2 separate regions of the Homo sapiens genome follow, and region 2 is linked to region 1. A link means that fine-mapping ties the variant in region 1 to the expression of a gene that starts in the linked region. Tissue or cell type: blood mononuclear cells. Region 1 holds a variant in brackets; the other region holds the start of a gene. All regions are shown on one strand. Distances are between the middles of the regions.

What was found.
Region 2: CACUL1 starts here. The variant in region 1 is fine-mapped to the expression of CACUL1 in blood mononuclear cells (TOPMed, PIP above 0.99). The same link has a PIP of 0.9 or more in whole blood.

Annotation. Positions count from the first base shown.
Region 1 is chr10:118,785,614-118,801,429 of GRCh38, forward strand. It overlaps LINC03036 (long intergenic non-protein coding RNA 3036), which reads right to left. Exons shown (of 4, transcript NR_186540.1): 4 at 1-1,429. Among named protein-coding and RNA genes, the nearest start is that of CACUL1, 39 kb to the left of the region's middle. RefSeq lists an enhancer at 9,656-10,211. The variant T/A (reference allele first, on the strand shown) is at 7,164.
Region 2 is chr10:118,748,011-118,763,826 of GRCh38, forward strand. CACUL1 (CDK2 associated cullin domain 1) reads right to left here and starts at 6,960. Exons shown (of 9, transcript NM_153810.5): 1 at 6,386-6,960. The coding sequence starts at 6,752. It overlaps LOC107987151 (a long non-coding RNA gene), which reads right to left and starts at 11,439. Exons shown (of 2, transcript XR_001747604.3): 1 at 10,623-11,439; 2 at 9,743-10,576. RefSeq lists enhancers at 6,889-7,028, 7,027-7,321.

The sequences.
Region 1 (15,816 bases):
GGCCAGATCCTGTCTCTTTAAAAACAAAAACAAAAAATGGCCTAGGTTGTGTAGTTTATAAATCCATCTACCCACTTGCGAATAGACCAAACTATCTCAGATTCCCCTGAGTGTTGATGTGCAGGTGGTGAGGTTACCAGCACCGGCCCCCACATCACAGAGCATTCAAGGCTGCACCTGTGCCATGGGTGGCAAAGGAGCCTCTGAGGAAAGCTATGACTGTCAAGCTGAGTCCGTTTTGTGCTTTGTGGGTTTTTAAAATTTTTGTTTAATACTTTTTGGTGTTCTACACATTCAGAGAAACTTTTCTAGTAACAAATGATAGAAATGATCCTTGAAAGTATCATCTTCTGAACATTAAAAGATTAGGAAAGTATAATTGCTTTGTTATTTTTTTAGCCCCAAAGTTCCAATATTTTTTCACACAACCCAGCACCTTGTGCTGAGCGCCCCACTTGGAAACCACTGATTTGCTTTATCAAAAAAAAAGTGGTTTTGTACATGATATTAAAGTGTAAAACAATGCCTTATGCCCAATGTTAGTAGCAACTGAATAGTTTATATAAAAGTATCTGGTAAGTAGGGCTTGGTCTTATATAAAATTGGAAATCTGGCTGGGCGCGGTGGCTCATGCCTGTAATCCCAACACTTTGGGAGGTTGAGGCAGGCGGGTCACTTGTGGCCAGGAGTTCAAGACCAGCCTGGCCAACATGGTGAAACCCCGTCTCTACTAAAAATACAAAATTAGCCGGGCATGGTAGTGTATGCCTGTAGTCCCAGCTACTCAGGAGGCTGAGGCATGAGAATCACTTGAACCCGAATTGCTTGAACCCAGGGGGCAGAGGGTGCAGAGAGCTGAGATCAGGCCACTACACTCCAGCCTGCAACAGATCAAGAATCTGTCTCAAAAAAAAAAAAAAAATCAGAAATCTATGGGATTGCGAGTGATTTACTCAAAAGAAACCAAAAAAGGCTTTATATTCACATGAGTCTGTGGCCCCTGGGGAGGATATCCTCAGCTCCCTCTCCACTTCCCTGACCATGGACTGGGCTTTAGGACTCTAGTCCTATGTCCCATTAGTTTTCTACAACTGTCATAACAAATTACTACAAATTCAGCCACTTAAAACAATAGAAATTTGTTCTCTTACAGTTCTGGAGGCCAGAAGTCGAAATCCAGGTGTCGGCAGTGTCAGCAGGGCCACGCTCCCTCTGAAGGCCCTAGGAGAGGCTCCTTTCTTGCCTCTTCCAGCTTCTAGTGCCATCAGCATTCCTTGGCTTGGACGGCTTTGCTCTGTCTTCACTTTGCCTTTTCATCCATGTTTCTGTCTTTTCCTCTGTGTGTCCTTTATCAGGACATGTGTCATTGGATTTCAGGCTCACTTGGATAATCAGGATGACCACTTCATCTCAAAATCTTTAATTACATCTGCAAAGACCCCGTTTCCAAATAAGGTCACGTTCGCAGGTTTTTAGGGTCATCATTCAGCCCACTGCACACGTTCTCCCTGCAATGTCAATGGATGAATTGGGGTCCAGAATGAGAGTTGGGGCACCGTGTGGACCAGCCTCTGTCTTTCCCTCCTTCCTGACTCTGCAGGGCTCCTCTGAACACCATGCTTTATCATGGAAGCCTTCCTCCTTGTATTTTACAGTCAACTCACATCTTCCATGAGGAGGAAATGCCTGAGACTTAGAAAAGGGGTCCTATGGTTCCTTCTCCCTGTCTTCCCACAATCATTCCATGCATTTCCTCTCCTCTATGATGCTTCAAAGCACTCTCTGGGCAACCACCAGCCTAGTTTCTGATCTCCAAAAAAGGAGCCACCCTTTTGGTGGGTTTATCATGTCAGCCCAACAGCAGTAAACCTGGCCAGCCCCATGGCAGAGTTCTTGCAAACAGGGAAGGGAAAAGTGGACCCAAGAGACTTTCTCTGGGCCTAGGAATCAGACTATTTTCAAGTCTAATCAGGGGCCGGGTGTGGTGGCTCATGCCTGTAATCCAAGCACTTTGAGAGGCCAAGGTGGGAGGATTGCTTGAGTCTAATAGTTCAAGACCAGCCTGGACAACATGGCAAAACTCCATGTCTACAAAATATACAAAAATTAGCTAGGGATTGTGGTGTGCACCTGCAGTCCCAACTACTTGGTAGGCTGAGGCAGGAGGATTGCTTGAGGAGGCAGAGATTACAGTGAGCCAAGATCACACCACTGCACTCCAGTCTGGGCAACAGAGTGAGACCCAGTCTCAAAAAATAAGAATAATTAAAAATAATAATAATAGGCAGTGCTCCTAGAATCTGAGGATACCCTGGCAGTTGGCAGGGCAGTGGTGCTGGCTTGGGGTGAGAAAACATCAGACAAGAAGACAGAAAAATAGCTGGGTGTGGTGGTAGGGCTAATGTGCCCCAGCCTTGAGGTCACACTTCAAGGAACTAGAGAAACAAGAACAAACCAAACCCAAACCCAGCAGAAGAAAAAAAAATAATCAAGATCAGAGCAGAACTAAATAAAATGGAAACAATCAAACTAACAAAACCTATACAAAAGATAAATGAAACAAAAAGCTGGTTCTTTGAAAAGATAAACAAAATTGATAGATCATTAGCGAGATTCACCAAGAAAAGACAAGAGAAGATCCAAATAAGCTCAATTAAAAATGAAATGGGAGATACTACAACTGATACCACTGGAATACAAAAGGCTACTGTGGACACCTTTATGCACACAAACTAGAAAATCTAGAGATGGATAAATTCCTGGAAATATACAACCCTCCCAGATTAAATCAGTAAGAAATAGAAACTCTAAACAGACCAATAACAAGATTAAGACAGTAAAAAAAAAAAAAAAATTGCCAACAAAATAAAGCCCAGGACCAGACGGATTCACAGGCATTCAAAGAAGAATTGGTACCAATCTTATTGAAACTCTTCCAAAAGACAAAGAGGGAATCCTCCCTAAATCATTCTATGGAGCAAGTATCATCCTAATTCTAAAACCGGAAAAAGACATAACAAAAAAAGAAAACTATAGACCAGCATCCCTGATGAACATAGATGCAAAAATCTTCAACAAAATACTAGCTAACTGAATCCAACAGCATATCAAAAAGATAACACACCCATAATCAAGTGGGTTTCATAGCAGGGATGCAGGGATAGTTTAACATATGCAAGTCAATAAATGTGATACTTCACATAAACAGAATTAAAAACAAAAATTATGTGATTATCTCAATAGATGCAGAAAAGGCATTTGGCAAAATCTAGCTTCCCTTCATGATTAAAACTCTCAGCAAAATTGGCATAGAAGGGATATGCCTCAAGGTAATAAAAGCCATCTATGACAAACCCTCAGCCAACATTATACTGAATGGGGAAAAGTTGAAAGCATTGCCCCTGAAAACCGGAACAAGACAAGAATGCCCACTTTCACCACCTCTATTCAACATAGACTGGAAGTCCTAGCCAGAGCAATCAGACAAGAGAAAGAAATAAAGGGCATCCAAATCGGTAAAGAGGAAGTCAAACCATCGCTGTTTGCCGATGATATGATCATATACCTATAAAACCCTAAAGACTCATCCAAAAAACTCCTAGATCTGATAAATGAATTCAGTAAAGTTTCAAAATCAATTCAGGAAGCAAAATCAATGTACACAAATCAGTAGCATTGCTATACACCAACAGCGACCAAGCTGAGAAATAAATCAAAGACTCAATCCATTTCACAACAGCTGCAAAAAATAAAATAAAATAAAATACTTAGAAATATACTCAACCAAGGAGGTGAAAGACTTCTACAAGGAAAGCTACAAAACACTGCTGAAAGAAATCATAGACAACACAAACAAATGGAAACACATCCCATGCTCATGGATGGGTAGAATCAATATTGTGAAAATGACCATAGTGCCAAAAGCAATCTACAAATTCAGTGCAACTCCCATCAAAATACCACCATAATTCTTCAAACAACTAGAAAAAACAATCCTAAAATTCATATGGAACCAGAAAAGAGCCCACATAGCCAAAGCAAGACACAGCAAAAAGAACAAATCTGGAGGCATCACATTACCTGACTTCAAGCTATCCTATAAGGCCATAGTCACCAAAACAGCATGGTACTGGCATAAAAATAGGCATGTAGACCAATGGAACAGAATAGAGAACCCAGAAATAAAGCCAAATACTTACAGCCAACTGATCTTCAACCAAGCAAACAAAAACATAAAGTGGGGAAAGGACACCCTATTCAACAAATGGTGCTGGGATAATTGGCAAGTCCCATGTAGGAGAATGAAACTGGATCCTCATCTCTCACCTTATACAAAAATCAACTCAAGATGAATCAAAGACCTAAATCTAAAACATGAAATCATAAACATTCTAGAAGATAACTTTGGTAAAACTCTTCCAGACGTTGGCTTAGGCAAAGAGTTCATGACCAAGAACCCGAAAGCAAATGCAACAAAACGAAATAAATAGATGGGGCCTAATTAAGCTAAAAAGCTTCTGCAGAGCAAACCAAATAACCAGAAGAGCAAACAGAAAACCCACAGAATGGGAGGAAATATCCGCAAACTATGCATCTGACGAAGGACTAATATCCAGAATCTACAAGGAACTGAAACAAATCAGCAAGAAAAAACAACGTCATCAAAAAGTGGGCAAAGGACATGGATAGACAGTTCTTCAAAAGAAGATATACAAACGGCGAACAAACATGAAAAAATGTTAAACATCACTAAGTATCAGGGAAATGCAAATTTAAAAACACAATGAGAAACCACCTTACTCTGCAAGAATGGTCATAAATAAAAAATCAAAAAATAATAGATGTTGGCATGGATTTGGTGACAAAAGAACACTTTTACACTGCTGGTGGGAAGGTAAACTTGTACAACCAATATGGAAAACAGAATGGAGATTCCTTAAAGAACTGAAAGTAGATCTACCATTTGATCCAATAATCCCACTACTGGGTATCTACCCAGAGGAAAATAAGTCATTATATGAAAAAGACATTTGCACACACGTTTATAGCAGCACAATTCGCAATTGCAAAAATATGGAACCAGCCTAAATGCCCAGTGACCAATGAGTGGATAAAGAAAATGTGTTATATGTACACCATGGAATACTACTCATGTGAATAGCATTCATAGCAACCTGGATGGAGTTGGAGACCATTATTCTAAGTGAAGTAACTCAGGAATGGAAAACCAAACATCTTATGTTCTCACTTACAAGTGAGAGCTTAGCTATGAGGGCGCAAAGGCCTAAGAATGACATAATGGGGGGCCGGGCGCGGTGGCTCGCACCTGTAATCCCAGCACTTTGGGAGGCCAAGGCGGGCGGATCACGAGGTCAGGAGATCAAGACCGTCCTGGCTAACACGGTGAACCCCGTCTCTACTAAAAATACAAAAAAATTAGCCAGGCGCGGTGGCGGGCGCGTGAACCCAGGAGGCGGAACTTGCTGTGAGCCGAGATCGCGCCACTGCACTCCAGCCTGGGCAGCAGAGCAAGACTCCGTCTCAAAAAAAAAAAAAAAAAAAAAAGAATGACATAATGGACTTTGGGGACTCAGGAAGAAGGGTGGGAGGGGGGTGAGGGACAAAAGACTACACACTGGGTACAGTGTACATTGCTTGTGGGACGGGTGAACCAAAATCTCAGAAATTACCACTAAAGTATTTATCCATGTAAGAGAAAACCACCTGTTTCCCAAAAATGACTGACATTTAAAAAAAGAAAACCCCCCAAATAATAGTAATAATAATGTTTAATTAGGTGTTTGCCCTTTGACCAGAGTTGCTGTATTTAGCAAATAAGAATGCAGGAGGCCCAGTTGAATTTGTTTTGTATAGGGGACAACTGGTATTTTAGTATGAGTATGTCCCATGGAATATTTAAAAATTTACAAATGCAGCCGGGCGCGGTGGCACACGCCTGTAATCCCAGCACTTTGGGAGGCCAAGGCGGGCAGATCACGAGGTCATGAGATCGAGATCATCCTGGCTAACATGGTGAAACCCCGTCTCTACTGAAAATACAAAAAAAAAAAAAAAATTAGCCGGGCGTGGTGGTGGGCGCCTACAGTCCCAGCTACTCCGGAGGCTGAGGTAGGAGAATGGTGAAAACCCGGGAGGCGGAGCTTGCAGTGAGCTGAGATCATGCCACTGCACTCCAGCCTGGGCAACAGAGCGAGACTCCATCTCAAAAAAAAAAAAAAATTACAAATGCAATATTTGGAACATATTTATACTAAAAATTATTCGTTATTCATCTGAAATTCAAGTTTAACTGGGTATCCCGTATTTTATCTGTCAACCCTACCTATGACCTTCCTTTCCTTCCCTCTTCTTTGCTTCCTTCTTTCCTTCCTCTGTTCTTCCTTCAAAAAAGCCTTTGTTGTAAGACTACTATCTGCAGAGTCCTATACTAGAAACAAATAAAGCATAATGTTCTTCAGGGTGTTCACAGCATAGGGGAAGGGAAAAAGCAGCAGCAAATGCCTTTAGCACAGTGCAGTTCCCCCACTCCAATAAATGTACATATAAATAGTTCAGGGACCACAGAGAAAAAAGCAATTAATTCTGTTTGGGGTAGAACCAGGTAAGGTGGAGGAAAAGAGATTGAGAAAAGGTGCAGGGTGCAGGTTCTTGGCCCATTCTTGATGGACAGGTGTAAAGCAATGGAGAGGTATTCAGGCCAAAGGCAAGTTCAGGCAAAGGTATGGCATGAGAAAGACACACTCTGTACGGGGGACATGGAAGACCTGCCATGGTTGGTTTGGTGAGGTGGGATCTGGATGTGTCTGTGGGTAGGGGTGGCTCTGATGTCAGGAGAGGGGATCAGAAACCCCACCTTGCTTGGAGTCAAGTGTGTAGGGCTCTTTATTCTATGCTGAGGAGCTGGAGCTTTCTCTGATGTGTCTTGAGAGACTGAATATACAAATGGACAGTGGCCAGACCTTAGATGACTGTAGACCTCTGATCCACAAACTTAGCAGTCACTTGCCCAGAAGCCAAACCACAGCCTCTGCAGCAATCAGCCAGAAAAGTCAGGCTTTGGGCAACAACTGCCAGCTTCCCTATTTTTTGCCCCTGCTTCCAACCAACTCAGGACCAATCACATAAAATGCCCTGTTTCTAAT[T/A]AGTCTGCCTCCAGCTTCCCTAGGCCAACAACCTCCAATCAAAGTACATGCGAAGTCTTCCTTTTTCTTCACCATAAAGCTTCCCCATTCCCCTGCCTGCCTTTGAGTTTCTGTTCTAAATAAACAGCCTTGTTTTTTCTCATTTCAGTGGTTTTCATTTATTTCCTCAATATAGACTGTACAGATTGCTTTTGAAGAGGGGGAGAGGGAGCAATGGGAGTAGTTAGCTCTGTAAAACTGATACCCTAATATATAGTGCTAATAGAACAATAGGTAGTGGTGGCATTCAGAGCTAGAAAAATCTGCTTTTGAGACCCTTTGCTATCTATACACACATACCCACACACAATTTTTTAACGTTTAGACACACCTGAACAGCCTCTAATTCTTTTATACTCTAAAGAAAGATTTTAAATCGTTAAAGTACAGTTTTTTTTAAAAAAAAAAAAAAGGATTTTTAAAGTTACCCTTAATTTTATTTTTTATTTTTATTTTTATTTATTTATTTATTTTTTGAGATGGAGTTTCCCTCTTGTTGCCCAGGCTGGAGTGCAATGGCATGATCTCGGCTCACTGCAACCTCCACCTCCCAGGTTCAAGCGATTCTCCTGCCTCAGCCTCCCAATAGCTGGGATTATAGGTGCCCACCACCACGCCCAGCTAAGTTTTTGGACTTTTAGAAGAGACAGGGTTTCACCATGTTGGCCAGGCTGGTCTTGAACTCCTGACCTCAGGTGATCCACCTGCCTCGGTCTCCCAAAGTGCTGGGATTACAGGCATGAGCCACCACACCCAGCCCAATTTTATTTTCAATGTAATATTTTCTTTCTTTCCTCTTGTGTGGTAGATTGCATCATTGACTCCAGTTTGTCACCCTTCCCTGTATTTACACCCTCGGTCATTTGACTCTGGGACTTTCCATGAAGTGGGCATCACATGGCTTTCTGCCCCACCGATGCCATGGTTGGCCACGAGACCTGCTTTGGCCAATGGGATGTTGGCAGACATGATGCAAGAAGAGGCTTGGAACAGACCTACACTCCGGGCCTGGGCTTTTGTACCTCAACCGTCTTGGCGAGAAGAACATGCCCAAACCAGTCTGTGGTTGCAGGAGAAGGATAAGAGTCAGGTGGAGCTGAGCCATGTCCAGCCAGGCCTAGTCTACTTTAGACTACCTCCAGCTGACCCACAGACAGATGAGCTCAATCAATGGCTATTATTGTTTTATGCCGCTGAAATTGTTGTGGCTGTTACGCAGCATTTCTATATAATAGTTGAATATTACACTCCTTGACTTCAGAAGTTGAAGAAATGTTTTGTTATTTTTAACGTGATTGGTTTTTTTGTTTGTTTGTTTTGTTTTTGAGACAGTCTCACTCTGTTGCCCAGGCTGGAGTGCAGTGGTGCAATCTTGGCTCACTGCAACCTCTGCTTCCCAGGTTCAAGAGATTCTCGTGCCTCAGTCTCCCGAGTGGCTGGGACTACAGGCGTGCCACCACGCCCAGCTAATTTTTTGCATTTTTAGTAGAGACAGGGTTTCACCATGTTGCCCAGGTTGGTCTTGAACTCCTGAGCTCAGGCAGTCCACCCACCTCAGCCTCCCAAAGTGTTAGGATTACAGGTGTGAGCCACCATGCCAGGCCTTAATAAGTGATTGTTAATGGCAGCTCTTATTGGTTGTCTACCCAAATCCATTCTTTGCTGCTGGTAGAACCTTGATTTTCTTCAGGATTTTACCCTCTGCCTAGCCTGGACAAGCACCAGGGAAGGTGCCCTCTTCAACTATAGGGAAAAAATCTTAACCAATCCAAGCCAAGTGTAGCTTGCTGGCAATTGGTTGAAGAGAGAGCATATAACACAGTTACAGCCAATGAGATGTGAGGAGTCAGCTGAGGGGCTTTCTGGAAAGGCTTCCCTCCTCTTTGAAAGAGATCCATGAGATGATTCTTCCTTTTATCATTCCAGTAGACTTTTGGAACTGTTGCCGCCATCTTGGGACCATGAGGGGGCCAGCAAGAGGACAAACCAACAGGCTGAAGAAGACAGACTGGGAAGAGCCCAAGTTCAAAATGTCATTGAAAATCCACCCAATTGGCAAGCCTTGGAGCTGCCCTAACTCAGGGCTACTTGGTACCTGTCCTCATGGTTTAGGCCACCTTTCTTTGCAGGTTGTGTTCCTTATAGTTCAATTCTTCCTAGATGATTCAGATACCCCCTCAGAAGAGGAAAATCCAAGTTATAGAGAGTGATGTATAGGTTTTCTTTTCTTTCTCATGTTTCTATCCAAGTGATTCATCCCTGAGTGAGGACCTCTAACAAACTCTTTAAAGATGGGCTTAAAGAATGTTCACTCCAGGCAGCCCCTGCCCGGCCAGCCCCCCCGTCCGGGAGGTGGGGGGCGCCTCTGCCTGGCCACCCCTTCTGGGAAGTGAGGAGCCCCTCTGCCCAGCTGCCACCCCATCTGGGAGGTGTACCCAACAGCTCATTGAGAATGGGCCATGATGACGATGGCGGTTTTGTCGAATAGGAAAGGGGGAAATGTGGGGAAAAGATAGAGAAATCAGATTGTTGCTGTGTTTGTGTAGAAAGAAGTAGACATAGGAGACTCCATTTTGTTCTGTACTAAGAAAAATTCTTCTGCCTTGGGATGCTGTTGATCTATGACCTTACCCCCAACCCGGTGCTCTCTGAAACATGTGCTGTGTCCACTCAGGGTTAAATGGATTAAGGGTGGTGCAAGATGTGCTTTGTTAAACAGATGCTTGAAGGCAGCATGCTCGTTAAGAGTCATCACCACTCCCTAATCTCAAGTACCCAGGGACACAAACACACAGGGTCCTCTGCCTAGGAAAACCAGAGACCTTTGTTCACTTGTTTATCTGCTGACCTTCCCTCCACTATTGTCCTATGACCCTGCCAAATCCCCCTCTGTGAGAAACACCCAAGAATGATCAATAAAAATAAAAAAAAAATTAAAAAAAAAAAAAAAGAATGTTCACTCCAGAACTCCCATTCACAATTGCTACAAAGAGAATGAAATATCTAGGAATACAATTTACAGGGGATGTGAAGGACCTCTTCAAGGAGAACTACAAACCACTGCTCAAGGAAATAAGAGAGGAAACAAACAAATGGAAAAACATTCCATGCTCATGGATAGGAAGAATCAATGTCATGAAAATGGCCATACTGCCCAAAGTAATTTATAGATTCAATGCTATCCCCATCAAGCTACCACTGACTTTCTTCACAGAATTAGAAAAAAAGTACTTTAAATTTCATATAGAACCAAAAAAGAGCCCATATAGCCAAGACAATCCTAAGGAAAAAGAACAAAGGTGGAGGCATCACGCTACCTGACTTCAAACTATACTACAAAGCTACAGTAACCAAAACAGCATGGTACTGGTACCAAAACAGATATATAGACCAATGGAACAGAAGAGAGGCCTCAGAAATAACACCACACATCTACAACCATCTGATCTTTGACAAACCTGACAAAAACAAGCAATGGGGAAAGGATTCCCTATTTAATAAATAGTGTTGGGAAAACTGGCTAGCCATATGCAGAAAACTGAAACTGGACCCCTTCCTTACACCTTATACAAAAATAAATTCAAGATGGATTAAAGACTTAAATGTTAGACCTAACACCATAAAAACCCTAGAAGAAAACTTAGGCAATTACATTCAGGACATAGGCATTGACAAAATCTTCATGACTAACACACCAAAAGCAATGGCAACAAAAGCCAAAATTTACAAATGGGATCCAATTAAACTAAACAGCTTCTGCACAGCAAAAGAAAGTATCATCAGAGTGAACAGGCAAACTACAGAATGGGAGAAAATTTTTGCAATCTACCCATCTGACAAAGGGTTAATATCCAGAATCTATGAAGAACTTAAACAAATTTACAAGAAAAAAAACAAACAACCCCATCAAAAAGTGGGCAAAGGATATAACACACTTCTCAAAAGAAGACATTTATGCGGCCAGCTAACATATGAAAAAAAGCTCATCATCACTGGTCGTTAGAGAAATGCAAATCAAAACCACAATGAGATACCATCTCACGCCCATTAGAATGGCAATCATTAAAAAGTCAGGAAACATCAGATGCTGGAGAGGATATGGAGAAATAGGAATGCTGTTACACTGTTGGTGGGAGTATAAATTAGTTCAACCATTGTGAAAGGCAGTGTGGCAATTCCTCAAGGATCTAGAACCAGAAATGCCATTTGACCCAGCAATCCCATTACTGGGTATGTACCCAAAGGATTATAAGTCATTCTACTATAAAGACATATGTACATGTATGTTTACTGCAGCACTGTTCACAATAGCAAAGACTTGGAACCAACCCAAATGCCCATCAATGATAGACTGGATAAGGAAAATGTGGCACATATACACCATGGAATACTATTCAGCCATAAAAAGGATGAGGTCGTGTCCTTTGCAGGGACATGGATGAAGCTGAAAACCATCACTCCCAGCAAATTAACACATGAACAGAAAACCAAACACTGCATGTTCTCACTCATAAGTGGGAGTTGAACACTGAGAACACATGGACACAGGGAGGGGAACATCACACACTGGGGCCTGTTGGGGAGTGGGGAGCTAGGAGAGGGATAGCTTTAGGAGGAATACTTAATGTAGATGACGGGTTGATGGGTGCAGCAAACCACCATGGCACGTGTATGCCTATCTAACAAACCTACATGTTCTGCACATGTATCCCAGAACTTAAAGTATAATAATAATTAAAAAAAAAAAAAAAGAATGTTCACTCCAATAGATGGCTCTGAGATTTGACTTTGAGGGTTTTACCAGGGCTCTACTATGTTAGGAAATTACTTCTGGCCTCTCTATATGACTCTTTGATCCTTTCCCCAGTGAAATGGGGATCCCCTGAGGACAACTTCAGAACCTGGCAAGTGCAAGAAGAATTTCAACTATACAATTCCTTGGTAACATCCATCCTTCCAAAGAGAGACTTCTAGGCTCTATTGACTTGGAGTTGCTTTAAGTAGCAAGGGTGAAGTTGACCTTTTTTACATATTGGCAGCAAAATTACAAAAATCAAAGTCAATCCGCAAGAATGATCTTTCTCCAGAACAATGAGCATACTTCACTGGTGTGATATATTTCAGTTCAATAGACAGTATCTTCAGAAAACACATTAAAATGTCATTAGATTTCATCTAAACTTGCTGGTAATTTCGGTAACCTGACTATCTCTCCCTCCTCCCACCCTGTGCTCAACAGAAACAAGCTCATACCAAATTAACATTCATTTTGTTAAAACTAAATCTCAGACCACCTTCTGGACTTGCCCAGCTTTCTCCTTCCTCTGGGCCACTCGCTGGTTCTTTTCTCCTCTGGAATGACTCTCTCCCACTTACAACCTGGCAAACTCATCATCTGACAATACAAAGTTCACAGGTCAATTCCTCCTCAAAACCTTGCCTTGGACCCCTGAGGCAACACCACATAGAGGGGAGGTTGAAGTCAGGCTGACCTGAGGGTGGATCGAGCTCTGTACCCAATTAGCTGGGTGACCTTTGCCAAGGAAGCCAGTTTCTCTGAGCCAAGTGTCAGCTTTCTCGCCTGTAAAATATGAATCATGATTACCCCTGCCTTGGGCTTGTGCTGAGGATGAGATGAGCTCATGTAAGAATCCCTGGCACAGAGTTAAGGACTCAATGTGTTTTGGCTGTTGCTACAGGATACCTTCCCAAAGAATCATAAAGCTTTATAGCAATAAGGGACTTCAGAGTAGCTCTTCTCGACCTTCCATGTACAAGCCAATCACCTGGGGACACAGATTCTGAAGTCCTGGTGCAATGCCTGAATTTTTTTTTTTTTTTTTTTTTTTTTTTTTTGCGTTTCTTGCAAGTTTCAGAGTGCTGCAGATTCCCCTTGTCCCAGGAGCACACTTTGAAATGGCAAGACTTTAGGAGACATTGACTTCCTGCTCATTTTACAGAAAATAAGCATGAAGCCCGAGAAGAGCTGCTCCTAGCCCAAAAGGATCCAGAAAGCTGCTGAGAAAGGCAACACAGAACACAATCTGCTGGTGGAGTTTGAGGAGAGATTCACTCTCAAAGCAATTGCTGATCAGAAACAACTTTGTGAGGTTTATCTGTAAATTGTGAATACATTTCCTCCACCCAAGAGCCAGTACTCTGCTTGCTGAACAAGGTAAGCTTTATTCCTGCCTCTGAGATGGGAGGAAGATTGGGTGAGACGGACAATTTCAAGAACAAAGACATTAAGCTAAAATGAGTGGTATTCTATCTGGGGAGAAGCGGAAACACATTACCCAAGGGCCTGTGGCATAAAACATAGCTTAGAAGGAGCAGCTGTGGGTTGGTTGGTTTGTTTTAGACAGAGTTTTGTTCTTGTCGCCCAGGCTGAAGTGCAATGGCGTGATCTCGGCTCACTACAATCTCCACCTCCCGGATTCAAGCGATTCTCCTGCCTCAGCCTCCCGAGTAGCTGGGACTACAGGCATGCGCCACCAAGCCCGACTAATTTTTTTATTTTTAGTAGAGACAAGATTTCACCGTGTTGGCCAGGCTGGCCTTGAACTTCTGACCTAAGGTGATCCACCTGATGTCTCTCTCGCCCAGAGTGCTAGGATTACGGATGTGAGCCACCACACCTGGCCACAGCCGTGGGTTTTTACTCTTCTCAGAATATCCTAAAAAAATCAAAGTTTTCAGGAAATTGGGGGAGAGTGCAGGAACAGTCATCGCTTTTCCAACGTAAGATAATTTCCAGATTTGCAACATTCGGGAAATGAGCACAACTCACTCCTCTTTGAGGCAGCACCCAGCTGATGCAGCTCCATTGTGTGGCCAACTGAAAGGGTCCTGCAGTTTTCCTAAGTGTATCCCAGAGTTATTTCTTCATGAAGAGGACCTAAGCCATTCCATTCCATGGTCCGTGGTGCTGCCCAAAAGCCCATCACATGTACGGCCACTGTGGGTGCTTCCTTTTTCCGACATCTGACCCTTTATCCCATTTGGCTTACTCCAAAAGCTCAGCCCATGCTCCCAGGCATGGATAGGAAGGAACCCACTAAAAAAAAAAATGCACTATTCATTGAAAGTGCTAGAACCCGCCAGTCTCCAAATGCAGTCCTTTTGAAAAGGCATGACTCAGTCCTGAGTAACATCTGATACTTAACAAACGTCCATGAGCCATAACACCTCCTGGTGTCTGAGTGGTTTTCCCATCAACCTCTAAAATAAAAGCAAATCAGTTAGCCAGGTGCTGCATATGCTCAGAAGGCTATAGAAGCTCAGAGGTACAAGCACCTGGAGAAAATATATCAACCCTTCTGCATTATAACAACAATTATTGCAGAAATTCTTGTCATTGTCTATCAAAGTGAAATCAACGAACCCCCACAAGTTTCTGTACTGTTTGCTAGAAGTAAAGAGACAAATGAGACAAACAGCTCTTGCCCTCAGAGAGTTGACAATCTAGTAGAAGAAGGAAGAAGCCATCCAAATAACTAGGAAACAAGGTAAAGAGCAGCTTCTGCTCTAAAAAGGCAGTAGGATTGCTGAAGGAGGGGAATGTGAACCCTGGTCTTGCCCTTCAGGCAGTTTTTCATAGTTAATGATCCTGCATTCTCAAATTGCATAGGTATGTCTCAAATATGAGACAAGCCTTCTAATTTACAAGTAAGTGAACAGAAAAACTGTACACAGGCAGTCCTCTGCTTTTGTAAATATGAAAATATGTATCAAATTAACTGTATAGAGTGCAATTAGAGACTTACACATTATAAGTGGTTGTTCCATCCCAGGCAGCACTGTAGAGTTGGTAAGGCTGTACACTACACAAGGGCATCTGACCAAGGGTTAGACTGAAATCTAGATGTGTATCCTGATGTAGAGTTGTACTTATCCAGAAAAGAAAGGAATTCCTTTTCCCAATTTGCACAAGACACCATTTAGCTCGTAGTGGCCCTGATTCTGAGAGGTCCAAAATAGTTTTAAATTCCAGTTACATATTTATAGCATTTTCTTATATGTTGTTCTTTTCCTTTGCCATTAAGTCTACAGTGGACCCACTTAAGTCCAGTAAGCATTCAATTGAACTCAAAGATTGGCCACTGATCTCCATTTTGGAAGCAAGTGTATTAAGCATAGAAAACTTATATTGCTTATTTTTGAGATTACTCTTTTTTTCTACTTTCCACTTGTTTTTGTAAAACAACATGGACAAAGCACAGTAAAATGTTCAAATAGTTACGCATGTTCTGTTGAACAAAGAGAGCAACTGCCCACAGTGAATGGTTGGCTGGCAGGCAGCACCACCTGGGGGCAGCTCAAATTATTTTTCTCAGTAGTTAGTGTATGACAGTCCACATCTGTTATGTCCTGTAACAGAGCAATTAGGGGTGTCAGTGTTTAAAATGCTTATCTGGGCCAGGTGTGGTGGCTCACGCCTGTAATCCTAGCACTTTGAGAGGCTGAGGCGGGCAGATCACGAGGTCAGGAGTTTGAGACCAGCCTGCCCAACATGGTGAAGCACCATCTCTACTAAAATACAAAAATTAGCCGGGCGTGGTGGCGGGCATCTGTAATCCCAGCTACCTAGGAGGCTGAGGCAGGAGAATAGCTT
Region 2 (15,816 bases), 38 kb before region 1:
GGAGCCAGAGGTTGCAGTGAGCCGAAATCGTGCCACTGCACTCCAGCCTGGGCGACAGAGTGAGATCCCATCTCCAAAAAAAAAGAGAGAGACAGAGAAACATAGGGAAGTATTTCAGGGTGACAGAAATGTTCTCTTGGTTGTTGTGGTGGTTACTGCTGGACAGACAGTCCTCCGTGGGCCTCACGCACTCCGACATGTCTTATTGAGTATGCCAGGAATGCAATCACTCTTGAACCTGGGCCATTCTGTACCTGGTAACCTTGAAAGACGAGATAACATCTCCCGCTAGACAAAGAGCAGGCTTGCTCACTGCTTTCTATAAAAGTAGTGGATTCCCCAAGTTTGATGTTCTTCAGCTGCAACACAGAACCACTGAGAGAGCATCCATCTTGGTCATAGTATGTCACCCTCTTGGGACTTGGGGGAAGGGGAAACTATGCAAATATAGCAATTCTCATGCTGTGTGCTATGACAAGAAAAATAAATTCCTTCATCTCTCACTCAGGAGTCCCCCATCTTATGTCAGCACCCAGTAATACAAGTTGAGAATCCTAAATCCAAAAATCCAAAATCTGAAACTTTTTGAGCACCAATATGATGCTTAAAGGAAATGTTCACTGGAAAATTTTGGATTTTGAATTTTTGGATTTGGGATGCTCAATCATTTGGTATAACACAAATATTCCAAAATCCGAAAAAAATCTGAAATCCAAAACACTTCTGGCCCCAAGCATTTTGGATGAGGGATAGTCAACCTGTAACAGTAATAGGCTACCTTTTAAGTATTAGTAGGGTAAAATCAAATTCCACACCAGACGGCGACATGGGTTAAAATGCATCAAACTGCACACCTAAAATGGGTACACTATATTGAATGGAGGAGAAGAGGTGTGGAGGAAGAAAATGGACACAGGAAAAAGAGGAAAGGAAAAGGAAGAAGAGTCAGGAGGAGGGAGGAAGCAGTCAGAACAGAAATTACTTAGTACGTGGAGAAATGAGTCCAGACATATGAAGAAAGGAATATAAATTTGTCATGTTCTAACCCACTCTTACTCCCTGAACTGTGCTCTGAGAAGGTCCTTCACCAACTGAGAAATATATAAATAATTAAATATAATTACTGAAAAAAATGCTGTGGTGGTTGTCCCTTGTAATTCTGGGTTAACGATGGGCAATACTGCCATTAAAAGAGGTTCCCTGATTTCAGTGGAATAGTTCTACTTCCAGAGTGACGAAGTGGAAATAACTTCCAGATATAAAATGGGCATGATTATTTAAAGAGGCAGCAGGGCCAGAGTGATCAGCAGAATGGCTTGGATTTCTGGTGGCTTGGATTTCTGGTGGCTTGGATCTCCCTCATGGTGGCTAACCATGATATCCTTAGGAAAACAAAGGCAATATACTGGGGTATTACTTGATCTGTTATAATGGACAGAAAAGAAAAACTCTAGATATATTAAACAGAGGTCTCACCTAAGTGGCATAATGGAAAGCCATGTAACCTCACCTAAAACCCACAATGAGCCTATTCACAGACACAGAAATGCTGGAATAAAGAAGAGGATGAGTTCCACTGAGGAAGAACCCCACATAATTAAAGTCTTCCTCCTAGCCTTTTCCAATAGAACATGCAGGTATTTATTAGGGAGATAGTACATTTGGGAAATGGAAATCACTGAGACTTTTCAAAGATTAATAAACACTGGCTCTAAGCCAATACGAACCCTAAGAGACAGGAACGTCACTATGGTAAACCAGGCAGATCAGGGGCTTATGGACGTCACATAAATGGTGTTTTGGCCTCAATCCATCTCACAGTAGGGCTGGTGGACCCGTAGTAACACTGTAACTCCCCCAGTTCTGAAACTAGTTCATGGTTCCCTAACCTGTGAAGTCAGGAATATCAACATAGGAAGGGCTAGATGTACCCTTTCCTACCAAAGTAATAAACTCGAAGCAACAAACAACACATCTCTGTGGGAACTATAGAAAACACTATCAATGTCAAAGACTTTAAAAATAAGAAAGGAGGGCCGGGCGTGGTGGCTCACGCCTGTAATCCCAGCACTTTGGGAGGCCAAGGCGGGTGGATGACCTGAGGTCAGGAGTTTGAGACCAGCCTGACCAACATGGTGAAACACATCTCTACTAAAAATACAAAAATTAGCCGGGCATGGTGGTGCACACCTGTAATCCCAGCTACTCAGGAGGCTGAGGCAGGAGAATTGCTTGAATCCGGGAGGCGGAGATTGCAGTGAGCTAAGACTGCACCACGGCACTCCAGCCTGGCGACAGAGCGAGACTGTCTCAAAAAAAAAAAAGGAATGGTGATAATTATGACATTCTTATTTCATGGGTCTGTTTGGCCAGAGCAAAAGAGATGAGTCTTGGAGCATGACTGTGGATTATCATCGATCAAATCCAAAGTGACTCCAATTTTAGTTGCTGTTCCAGACATGGTCTCTTCACTGTGACAAATCAACACCATCCCTGGCACCTACCATGTATCCATCAAGATAATAAATGCTTTTTATCTCTGTCCCAAAACTAGAAACCAACAGAAGCTGTTTTCACCTTACAGTCTAAAGTATACCTTCACTGCCATAGCTGAGGGATACATTAACGCGGCAGCTATCTTCCACTATCTGGTCCACAGAGACTTCGGACATCTCAACATCTCACAAGTTCACTACACTGCTATTCCCACAAGCAAGTATACGTTTTCCTGTATTACCATATCCCCATTGCACTTGGCACTATTCATTCAGCTTTCTAATTTTTGTCAACCTAAAGGTGGAAAAAGACATTCCGTTACTATTTTATTCTTTAATTTTTGTGGGTATATAGTAGGCATATATTTTTATGAGGTATATGGGATATTTTGATACAGGCATACAGTGTGTAATAATCCCATCAGGGAAAATGCGGTACCATCACCTCAAGCATTTATCCTTTGTTTTACAAACAATCCAATTATACTCTTTTCCATTACTATTTTAATATGCATGTCTCTGAATATTAATAAATTCATCTCTTCTTATGCTTTTTAGGGTTTCCTATTCTTTCTATAAGCTACTTATTAATATCCTTTGCCTATTTTTCTACAGAAGTTGCTGCCCTCTTGTTGATGTATAGTAAGTAGTCCCTTGTCTAGTCAGATCATCATCCCTTGTTAATTTTAGGCACTGTAAATATCTTCTCTAATTTTTTCATCTTTTGCCAAATGAATAATTTTCATATAATCAAAATAATTAATTTTTCACCTTTATAAACTTTTGAAGCTTTAAAAAGTACTTCCCTGTCCCTAGGGAAAGAGCTTAACATTTTCAATAATGTTAACTTTGGTTTTTCTTTTCACATTTAGGTCTTTAATTCATTTGGAGTCTATCCATTTATGATATTAAATTTATTTTTTCTCTATATAGTGAGTCACTCTCCCTAACAACATATGACTCCTTTCTCCAGTGGTTTATGATGCCACTTAAAAAGTTCCCAACTTTTATACATGTATCCAGGTAAGTCTCTGCCCTCCAATTTGTTTCCTTGGTCTATTTTTCTGTTCTCGCACTTACACCACTTTAACTACAGCCTTGACATCTTAACTTCTAATAAGGCAAGCCTCCCATCCCCAAACAAATCTTTAAGATTGATTCTGTTATTCACAAACTTTATCCCACACACCATATAAATTTTAGACTTAGGCTATTGAGTTTGTCAAACCAAATGTAATTTTGACGTCATTTAAACTGAATTTATAAATTGGAGAAAATTAGTATTCTTGTAAGTAATTTGATCCAAGAGCAAGGAAAATTGTACCATTTATTTAGATTATCCTCTAGTTTCTTTTTCAAGTTTTAAAGTTTCCTTTTTAAAGGTCTTGCGTATTCACGGGTTGATTCCTAGAGACTTTAGAGTTTTGTTGCTATTATTACATATAGTATTTACTTTTGATTATCTTTACTAGTTATCACTAGTTTAGTAAATGCTATCAAATTTTTGTAAGTTTATCTTAAATCCAGCAATCCTGCTAAACTCTTACTAGTTCTAAGTTTTCTCTGGATTTTAATGGTTCATCTAGGTAGGTGATCATATTATCTGCAAATAATAACTTTTATTGCTTCCCTTACAATCTTTATACCTTATTTTTTTGCTCCTTATAATGTTAGCCAGGACCTTCCTACAATGCTAAACAGTAGTAATGACAGGAGCATCCTTATCTTGTTACGGATCTTAAAGTATATGTATCTAAAATTTCTCCATTAAGTATTATTATTTACTGAAGGTTTTTGGTAATGACCTTTATCTAGTTATCTTGTACTCCTAGGTTACCAAGAGTTTTTATCATAAATAGCTGCTGGATCTAGTTGAATGATTTCAGGGCACCAATTGAGATAATCGTAATTTTTTTCCTTTAGTCTATTAAAGAGCTAAATTAGATAAGTAGATGTTAAACCATGCTTTCATCTCTAGGACTAACTCTATGGATCAGGACTCTGTAACACACTGTTGGATTTGATGAGCGAGTATTTATTCTGCAGTATTTTCATTTCTATGCTAAGTAAAACAGACCTATAATTTTCTCTTCTTACATGTCCTTATCTGTTTTAGAATCAAGATTTCACAAGCCTCATAAAATGAACTTGGTATTTTTTCTATTTTCCAGTGCAACTTGCAAAAAGAATTAAGTGTTAAAGTATGGTGGAACTCATCAGCGTATCTGGATGCAGAGCTTCTAAAAAGGGAGATCTTTACCATTTCAGTTTATTAGTTCAAGATATTTCTTCTGATACCAATTTTCACATTTACTAGTTTTCTAAGAACTATATTTTTCATTTAGGCTTTCAAATTCATCAGCCTAAGTTCATAACGTTCTTTTTTTAATCTGATATTTGTAGTTATTTTCCATTTTTCATTTATTTGCATCTTTTTTTCTTGTCGTTTTTATCAGAGGTCTGTCTGCCTAGCTTACTCATCTTTTCACAAAAATAATCTTTTGGTGTGACAAATCCTTTTGTTCTCAATTTTACTGATTTCTGTTCCTAACTTTATGCTCTTTTTTGAACTCTTCAAAGGAACTTTACTAAGGCAATCTTCCTTCGTGACTCAGGTGAAGTCATTCTGCCACTCTACAGGAGGTCTGGTTCCACAACACAGCCTTCAACACACAAACTATACAATATAAACATGATTATCATGAATAAGGAGAAAAAGCGTATATAATCTTACCAAACGTACATATCAATGTCTTTGACTAAGGCAGTATCTTGGGGCAAATAAAATTACGCGCTGTTCCCACACACAGTGTGTAAGATTCCGACTATCTGCATCAAGGCAAATATTTTCTCTGCACAGCTAACTGGACAAGTACAGCTTCATAAAATTAGTAGCTAGAAATGAACTCTCCAGTTGCTTTACCAGATGCCACTCAAAACTTGCAGTTAATAATAGGAGAGAAAAACCTGGCTGTGATGGTCACAATCATTTTCAACATCCTATCACCACCACCACCGCCACGCACACATACACACAAACCAAAGTAAAAGCACATTCTTTTCCTAGCTATGGAAGCATACATATATCCTGGTCAGAGGCAGTTTCGGATTACAAAACAGATTTTGGTCTTAAATCTTAATGCGTGCAATTGAGCGTTAAGACAGACTACTAACATAAAGTTCAACATGCAACCCAATCTTGGGTTTGGACACAAGACATAACCCATCCTGAAAGGCTTATTCTTATGAGTGTAAGCTCTGAAAAGTGATTTTATGCATTATTAGCTTCAAGACGATGTCGGAGCTGCCACTGCATCGGAAAGCAACTCATTATTTCCCTAGCAGGATGCAAAAGTGTAACACAGTAGAGAAGGAACAAGGTGTAGATATAGGTCAACTTTCAAATTCCTTACTTGTTTAACACAGCCTGGCCAAAAACACAAGAACACAAGTTGCCAGATTTCTTTTCTCTCTCTGGCTGCAGAAGACTGAAGGCCTTTCCCTAACGAGACTCAGGCAGCCTTATTTTCCCCTCACTTTGAGGGTGAAACTTCAAGAGAAGACGGGTGCGAAAAGAGCTTCCCAATGTTGAGAGACTGCCAGTTGTGATAGGGATCGCACTGACCGAACTTGGGGCTCCGTGTGTACCAGGCTGCCTCTCTAGGCCAGGTAATACAAGAAGCCAGGGCCGCTCAGGCGCTGGCCGCAGACACCAAATGAGGGGGAGGGGACGGTGAGGGGGAAGGAGGCAGGGAGGCGAAGGCGGACGGGGAGAAGAGGAAAGACCGAGGCCTGAAACAAAGGAAGCGGAGCTTTCTCCAAGAGGGGGTGGATTCGGCGTCCGAGTGAGGTGGAGAAAAGCCAAGGCTGCAGGGAAAGGCTGGACTCACAGAACTTGGAGGTGGAGGTGTTGATGTTGATGGTGGAGCTGGCGGTGGGGGCGGGGGCCGCCTTGGCCACGGCGGCGGCCGCGTCGCAGCTCTTCAACATCATGATCACCCCATTAGCCTCCGGCGGTGGCTGCGGCCCCATCGGGAGCCCCTCCTTGGGGCCTTTCCTGTCCACGGAGACCGCGGGCACCGCCAGCAGCTGCCCCCCCGGAGGCTCTCGGGCAGGGGCCGGGATCGACGAGGGGGGCGGCGGAGGTGGCAGGGGCTGCCGGAAGCCGTCCACCGCAGCCTCCCAGTTGTTGTGGTTCTGGTCGTCCATCATCGCCTCGTAGCTGCCCCCCTCCTCCTCTTCCATGCTTTCCTCCATCCTGCTGGCCCCCGGCACCCGCCCGCCTCACAGGCACCTGCCGCCTGTCTCAACCCCGGGCCAGCGGGCACCGCTGCCTCCCCGAGTTACATCGCCGGCGGCAGGAATGGGCGCAGCGGAGAGGGCTGCGGTGCGCAGGGTCTCTCGCTCTCCGCGGGGCCGACTAGCTTGAAGACGCGGCTGACGGCGGTGGGCGCTCCGGGGCTCTAGTCTGGGAGAGGCAGCCGTAAAGCAGCGGCGCTCCTCACGACGTTTTACAGCGGCTTCCAACAGGCAGTTGGAAAGGGCAGCTGGGGGCGCGGCCAGGAGGGCACGTGGTGCGAGGGACTGGCCGCGAGAAAGCGGAGCCAAAAGGGGCGGGAGCTGTGAGTCACTCCCACGCAACAGGGCAGAGGTTCGCCCCGCCTCGGCTGGCAGGGAGCTAACAGGGGAGGCGCGACGGGTCGGGACGGGCATTCGCCGGCCCCGCCCCCTGCCCGGCCTCACGTGACAAAGGTGTGTCTTGCGCACGCGCGTTCGCAATCTGGTTACCATGACGACGAGGCCCTCGCCGGTTCCTGAGGACGCGCGCGGAGCAGTCTTGGCAGTAGCTGTGGACTGGCCAGAGTGATTGGAGGTGTTTTCCTCGCGTCCTCCAAGTCTACGGGGCCTTCGCACCTCTGAGTGCCTGAGAGCCCCGGCTTTTGCTTGGGACGGAGGTACGGGACCACAAGAGGCCCCGGGGTCGCAGGTTATAAACGGATGAGACCGCCCTGGGCGGCCCGTGGTCCGACTGCTCTTGGGTCGGTCCCCAGCCGTCGCGACACACACGCACAAAATCGAGAATAAAAACCGAATCACACATAGCAGGATGGCGCAAAAAAGAAATGCGTTTGAGTTACTCATGTGTTTTTAAAATTCCTTTACGTTTGTATGCACTAAGGCCAGCAACCCAACTTTTAAAAATGCCGGCTCAGGCCGGGCGCGGTGGCTTACTCCTGTAATCCCAGCACTTTGGGAGGCTGAGGCGGGCGGATCACGAGGTCAGGAAATCGACACTATTCTGGCTAACACGGGAAACCCCGTTTCTACTAAAAATACAAAAAAGTTAGCCGGGCGTGGTGGCACGTGCCTGTTGTCCCAGCTAGCTGCTCGGGAGGCTGAGGCAGAATTGCTTGAACCCGGGAGGCAGAGGTTGCAGTGAGCCGAAATCGCGCCACTGCACTCCAGCCTGGGCAACAGAGCGAGACTCCATCTCAAAAAAAAAAAAAAAATGCGAGCTGGGCGCAGTGGCTCACGCCTGTAATTCAACCACTTGAGGAGACAGAGATGGGAGGCCCGCTTGTGCCCAGGAATTCGAGACCAGCCAGACCAGCATAACAAGACCACGCCTCTAAAAACAAAATTAGCCTGGCATGGTGGCGTGTGCCTGTGGTCCCAGCTACTCTGGAGGCTTAGGTGGATCACTTGAGCCCTGGAGGTCAAGGCTGCAGTGAGCCGAGATCGCGCAACTGCACTCCAGCCTGGGTGACAGAGTGAGACTGTCTCCAAAAAAAAAAAGAGAATTAAGTGGTATGCTGAAGGGGAAAACATAAAACCTTAGAATTACATGTGTGGCAAAAAGAGAGGCAGAAGGAAGGCAAATTCTGTTTCAAACAACTAATGGTTTATCATCAACAGACTCTAGGTAGATGGCTGGGTGAGTGCGATGGGATAAAGAAGGGTCTTTACATTTAAAAAAAAAGTCCAATATACAGGGAAGATAGAGTCAAAAAAGTGTCTCTAACATACTGTGTCATAAAGCAAGTCTTTACATATCTAAGGATTTATATCATAGCGACTATATGGCCACAAAATATATGAAGCGAAAATGAACAGAAGTATAAGAAGACAAAGAAATCTACCATCAGAGTAGGTGATTTTTCACTCCCTCTCTAATTGCAGTGAGTTGAATACAGCCTCCCACAAGATATGTCCATATCCTAATTCCTAGAACTTGCGAGTATGACCTTATTTGGAAAAACGGCGTTTGCAGATGTAATTAAAGTTCTTGAGATGAGAAGATCATCCTGGATTATCCAGGTGGGCCATCAATCCAATGATAGGTGTCTTTATAAAAGAGAGGTAGAAGAGAAGAGAAGGTAATGTAACCACAGAAGCAGAGATTGGAGTGATGGCATTCCCAAGTCAAGGAATGCTGACAGCACCCAAAGCTGGAAGAGACAAATTTTCCTCTTGAGCCTCTGGAGGGATTGTGACCCTGCCAACATGTAGATTTCAGACTTCTAGATGCCAGAACTGAGAATTCATGTCGGTTTTTTTAAGCCACCTATTGTGATAATTTGTTAAGCAACTGATTACAGGAAACTAATACATAGACCGAGGGGACCAAAAAAATCTTTAAGGTACTGGAAGAGTTGAGTAACACAATTACCAAGCTTAATCTAATATATATGTGTAGAATATTGCCTTAATGACCATAGAATACACACTCCTATCAAGAATATGCTAAACATTTACAAAAATTGAACATACTGTGTCATAAAGCAAGTCTCCACATATCTAAGGATTTATATCATAGTAACCACATTTTCTGGTCACTATATAGGTAAGTTAAAAATCAATAACCAAAAGGTAACTGGCAAGCCCCATATTTCCACTATTCCAATTAACTCATGGGTCATAAAATCATAATAGAAATTAGAAAACATTTAGAACTGATGGGCTTGGTACTAATCATAGCAATGTAACTTCCATCCTCTTGAGGGCCCTGCTCCAAGGGTTTTTACCCAGCACACTGATGAATACTGAACCTTTTGTGTGTGTGTTGTCAAAATGATCAATATAACAGCCATTTTTGCTGTAATTAAACTACTGTGACAAGACCTAATGACAGTTGAGCGAAACCAGTCACTGACAGGGGACAATTTCCCATAAGAAATCCTACTGAAGGGAAACCAAATGAACATATTGGTAACTGGTTGATTTTGTGGCATTATGAGACATTGTTATACTTTAGAGCATATTATATTTTAATAGTTATTAACATAAATCTTTGATTTGTTCTGGGTTGTGGAGATGGGGTATAACATTATTAGCAACATTTACCCAAAAACAGTGAACACAAGGTTAGTAGTTACTATGACGTTCCATAGTCGCAGATATTCATCTATTTGTTCGGTTTTTGTTTGTCTGTTTCTATTTCCCACTAGGCTGTGAATTTCATTAAAGCAGGATAAATATATGTGTAAAATTTCTGTGTAAGTTTGGATACATAAAGAGGAAACTAACTCAAAACTCAATAGCAGTTATCTAGGGATAGTGAGATTATGGATGGTCTTAATGTTCTTCTTTATATCTTTCAATGTTTTCTTGGTTCTCTACAATAAGTATGTATTATTTTTATAATCAGAAAAGAATTCTGAAACTTAAAGATTAACAAATAAAAACGTTAAGTATAAATTGGGATTCCATAGGCTAAAATGTTTGTTTTGGCTTCCAGAAGCAAAAACTCAAATAAAAATTGCTTTAAAATCAAGGCTGTTCATTGGCTAAGAGACTGAGAAGGTCTAGGAATGGTGGAGGTGAGGCAGGGCTCAGCCATTACTGAGCTCTGCTTCTCTGTGGTGTTGTCTTGTTCTCTCTTGTGCATGTTTCACCCTTAGGCTGCCTACAAAATGCCTGCCACAGCCCCTGGCCTCAGGTCTATGGACAAGAAGTCAAGATGAAAAGGGCCTGTGAATTCTGGTAGCTTTCTATTATGAGAAAATTCCCAGAAGCCCTCAGGAAACTTCCTCACAGTGTCTCATTGGTCCATTCCTAAACCAATCACATGGCACTTAGACCTGGATTCCAGAGCCCTTTACTGGAAAGGGTATGGACTCATTAGACCTGGATTCCAGAGCCCTTTACTGGAAAGGGTATGGATTCATTCCTGGAAAATAAAGCCCATTCCTGGAACTTAGCATGGGATCAGCTTCTCCCTAAGTACATTGGCTGAGAGGGGAAGGAGTGGCTAGAAGAACAAATATTGGAGTCAATCGGGAATGTTTAAAGTGCTGGGTAGGCTACAATTCCATTATAGGCCAAAGTATGGAATCCCCTAGAACTCCTATTACCTAACCTTACCCCAGCCTCTCCACTACCTGCCCTTCATAAATGCCTCCCTAATCAATATATCTATGCAAAATTATGTACATACTGATTAGAATCAAGAAAGACATAACCGGCCAGGCAGTGTCTGATATCTGTAATCCCAACACTTTGGGAGGCCAAGGCGGGTGGATCACCTGAGGTCAGGAGTTCAAAACCAGCCTGGCCAACGTGTTGAAACCCTGTCTCTACTAAAAATACAAAAATTAGCTGGACGTGGCGGCATGCACCTGTAATCCCAGTGTGTCCAGAATTGGTGGGTTCTTGGTCTCACTGACTTCAAGAATGAAGCTGCAGACCCTCGCAGTGAGTGTTGCAGCTCTTAAGGTGGCACGTGTGGAGTTTGTTCCTTCTGATGTTCGGATGTGTTCGGAGTTTCTTCCTTCTGCTGGGATCATGGTCTCGCTGGCTCAGGAGTGAAGCTGCAGACCTTCACAGTGAGTGTTATAGCTCATAAAAGCAGTGTAGACCCAAAGAGTGAGCAGCAGCAAGATATATTGCAAAGAGTGAAAAAACAAAGCTTCCACAGTGTTGAAAGGGACGGGGGCGGGTTGCCACTGCAGGCTCCGGCAGCCTGCTTTTATTCTCTTATCTGGCCCCACCCCCATCCTGCTGATTGGTCCATTTTACAGAGAGCCGAGTGGTCTGTTTTGACAGGGCACTGATTGGTGCGTTTACAATCCCTGAGCTAGACACAAAGGTTCTCCAAGTCCCCAATAGATTAGCTAGATACAGAGTGTGGACACAAAGGCTCTCCAAGTCCCCACCAGAGTAGCTAGATACAGAGTGTCAATTGGTGCATTCACAAACCCTGAGCTAGACACAGGGTGCTGATTGGTGTGTTTACAAACCTTGAGCTAGACACAGGGTGCTGATTGGTGTATTTACAATCCCGTAGCTAGACATAAAGTTTCTCCAAGGCCCCACCAGACTAGCTAGATACAGAGTGTTGATTGGTGCATTTACAAACCCTGAGCTAGACACAGGGTGCTGATTGGTGTATATACAATCCCTTTGCTAGACATAAAGGTTCTCCAAGTCCCCACCAGACTAGCTAGATACAGAGTGTGGATTGGTGCATTCACAAACCCTGAGCTAGACACAGGGTGCTGATTGGTGTATTTACAATCCCTTAGCTAGACATAAAGGTTCTCCAAGTCCCCACCAGACTCAGGAGCCCAGCTGGCTTCACCCAGTGGATCCAGCAAGAGGGCTGCAGGTGGAGCTGCCTGCCAGTCCCGCGCCCTGCGCCCACACTCCTCAGCCCTTGGGTGGTCAATGGGACTAGGCGCCGTGGAGCAGAGAGCGGTGCTCGTCTGGGAGGCTGGGGCTGCACAGGAGCCCACGGAGGCGGGGGCAGGCTAAGGCATGACGGGCTGTAGGTCCTGAGCCCTGCCCCGCGGGAAGGCAGCTATGGCCCGGCGAGAAATTGAGCGCAGCGCTGGTGGGCCGGCACTGCTGGGGGACCCACTACACCCTCCGCCGCCGCCAGCCCAGGTGCTAAGCCCCTCACTGCCCGGGGCCGGCGGGGCCCGCTGGCCGCTCCGAGCGCGGGGACCGCCGAGCCCAAGCCTACCCGGAACTCGCGCTGGCCCACAAGCATCACGGGAAGCCCCGGTTCCCGCCCGCGCCTCTCCCTCCACACCTCCCCTCAAGCTGAGGGTGCCGGCTCCGGCCTCGGCCAGCCCAGGAAGGGGCTCCCACAGTGCAGCCGCGGGCTGAAGTGCTCCTCAAGTGCCGCCAAAGTGGGAGCCCAGGCAGAGGATGTGCGGAGAGCGAGCGAGGACTGTGAGGGCTGCCAGCACGCTGTCACCTCTCACCAGCTACTTGGGAGGCTGAGGCAGAAGAATCACTTGAACCTGGGAGACGGAGGTTGCAGTAAGCCGAGATCATGCCGCTGCACTCCAGCCTGGGAGACAGAGTGACACTCCATCTTAAAAAAAAATAAAAATAAAAGACATAACCCATGTTTGTTTAATTATGAAATGCCATGTGGCCAATTGTCTAAAATAGTTAAAACATTGGGGGGGGGTGGGCTACAGAGACTTGGTCACTAAGAATTAGTCTTTGTACGGCTTTAAATACATTGTCACTTTCCCAAACAATATTTATTTGTAATTGTTCAATACTTTTTAATGAATAAGTGTATGACTAGCTTAAATCTACTTGAAATCCTATTTTATATCAAAAGACGTTTTTCTTTTTGAGATAAGGTCTTGCTCCGTTGCCCAGGCTGGAGTGCAGTGGCATGATCATGGCTCACTGCAGTTTTGACCCCCCAGGCTCAAGCGATCCTTCCACCTCAGCCTCTCAAGTAGCTGGGACTACAGGTGTGCACCACCATGCCCAGCTAAGTTTTGTAACTTTTGTAGAGATGAAGTTTCACCACGTTGCCCAGGCTGGTCTCAAACTCCTGGGCTCACCTTGTCCTCTCAAAGTGCTGGTATTACAGGTGTGGCCCATGGTACCTGGCTGAAAAGACTTTTCTTCTTTGGTCAACTCTGACAGCATAGCATGTACTATGCGATACATTAGTCCCTGAGAGAAAGTATTATTGCAATTTTTACATCTTTTCATCTATCATACCAACCTGGCATTTGTGGCATTGTTAGTAAAGGATGAAATTGCTCAGAAGTGAATAAGAGGAAAGAAGAGGAGAAAAAATATATGAGAAAAATCCAAAAATTATACATGCCTCTTCTAAGTAGTCAAGAACTCATTGAATCAGAAAAGACTGTAGTAGACAACATACAGACATATAGGTGTTTTCTCTTAATTGCTATTCATTTTAAATGGACTATTAATTACACAAAGGAATTAGCATGGAAAACATAAAAATTCAACTTTGATGGAGATAAACTATATTAGGATAAAGAAGAATGAATACTTGTGTTTAATCCCTAGGAGATTAGAATTGTACCAATACAGCATTGACAAAGAAATAATTTGTGAATGCATAATGCAGTTGGAAGTCTAACTGCAAAGCTATTGGAGTGATCTTGATTAGAAGGTAAGAGGATTATTGCCGTGTAAACTCAAGCCTCAACAGTTGCACACTGAGATTACTGATTACAGTGAAGATGGGTAGCCACTCGGGGGAGTATTCTGTATTCAGTATTTCTTTCCATGTTCAATTTTATTCCTTCCTTTTACATCTTAGCATCTGAATTCTAAATTCCATCCTAGCAGGGAAACAGAGGAAATGATGCAGATTCTCTCATAAGCCTGATGAATTTAGGAGCTGAAGGAAATGACTTGAGGCTGAAGGAGGTTGGGGGAAAACAAGCAGGCAAGAGACGGGGAGTTATGTCGACACTTCATTGCAGGCCTGTCCCTTTCACTCAGTCATTCACCAATATTTCTGTGTTCAGGTACTGTGCGGGGGCTATAAGAGTAAACAGATAGCTGGGTGCATGGCTCACGCCTGTAAACCCAACACTTTGAGAGCCTGAGGCAGGAGGATCACTTGAGCCCAGGAGTTCAAGACCAGTTTGGGCAACATGGTGAAACCCTGTCTCTGTGAAAAATACAAAAATTAGCTGGGCATGGTGGAGTGTTCCTGTAGTCCCAGCTACTCAGGAGACTGAGGTGGGAGGATCACTTGAGTTCAGAGGGGGAGGCTGCAGTGAGCCAAGATCACACCACTGCACTGCAGCCTGGGTGACAGAGTGAGACCTGTCTCAAAAAAAAAAAAAAAAAAAGTAAACAGACAAAAAGCACTCTGCTCCTCATGGAGTTTCCATTCCATGAGGGTATCAAGCACTAAACAACCACATGAGCCAAAGCATGACAAACGCTAGGAAAGAATGCCATGACTGGGCATTACTGAGAGAATTCTTTTACTTTGGGGGATCGAGGAGAACCTCTGTGAAAAAGAATATTTCTGCTAAGATGAAAGGATGGGTAGAAGAGAGCCAGACAAGTTAGGAAGAAAACATTCCAGGCAGAAGGGAGAACACAAGGAAGACGTTTGACATCATCTCTAAACTGAAAGAAAGGCAACAAGACTGCAGTAGCGTGAAGGGAAGTGGATGGGAATGGCATACGCAGAAAGGCAGGACACGGCTGGGTTATGCAAGTCCTCGTAAGGCCTGTTGAGAATTTAGTGTTTCTGTTTGAATGGAAAAGAGGTAGAGAAGTGGCATAGGATGTGACTTACATTTGATAAGGACATCTAACTGCCTTGAGGGGAGTGGCCTATAGGAAAGGAAAGAGTGAAAACAGAGACTAACTGGGGAATTGTGGCAATACTTCAGGCAAGAGATGATGGTGGCTTGGACTAGAAGGATGGCAGTGGATATAGAGAGAACTGGTAGGCTACAGATTTTGACATTAGACTGGACAGTTCTTGATGGTGGATTCGACATTGAGGACCAGGGAAAGAAAGGTTTCAAAGATGCCTTACTCTGGTATACACCGGGATAGAGCATCACATTCTATTCAAAGCTAGGAATTTATCAGATGCATGTAAGGGGAGGAAAGTTCAGTGAGCAATGGAAATGATGAATCAGCCATAGACTCCAAGCTGAATAAGAAAGTAAAGACAGATGGAGCAGATGGGTAGAGAGAAGGTAGAGTTTTTCATGGATGAGAGGTGTCCATGGGGTTGAAGAGCTATTGGAAGGGACATCTGTCCTTAAGCAAGAAACTAGCAGGATGGGTCATAACCCAACAGTAGGCTGAATTCATGATTTCAAAGGTATTGCAGTTGCTGCTGGTGACAAGACCTACAGTGGGAATAGCAGACATTGACCTTTGTTTTTGTTTGGCTGTCAAGTGCCTGATTTGCTTCCTATTTGTACACATTCACATTTGTTTGCTTTGGTGCAGGAAGCCAAAGGGTGCCAGACATTCCCTCTCCCCATACGCCACCATCAAGAGCAAGGGCACACATGCTGTGCTCAGCCAACCAGATCTTTCTGCCAAGGTATTT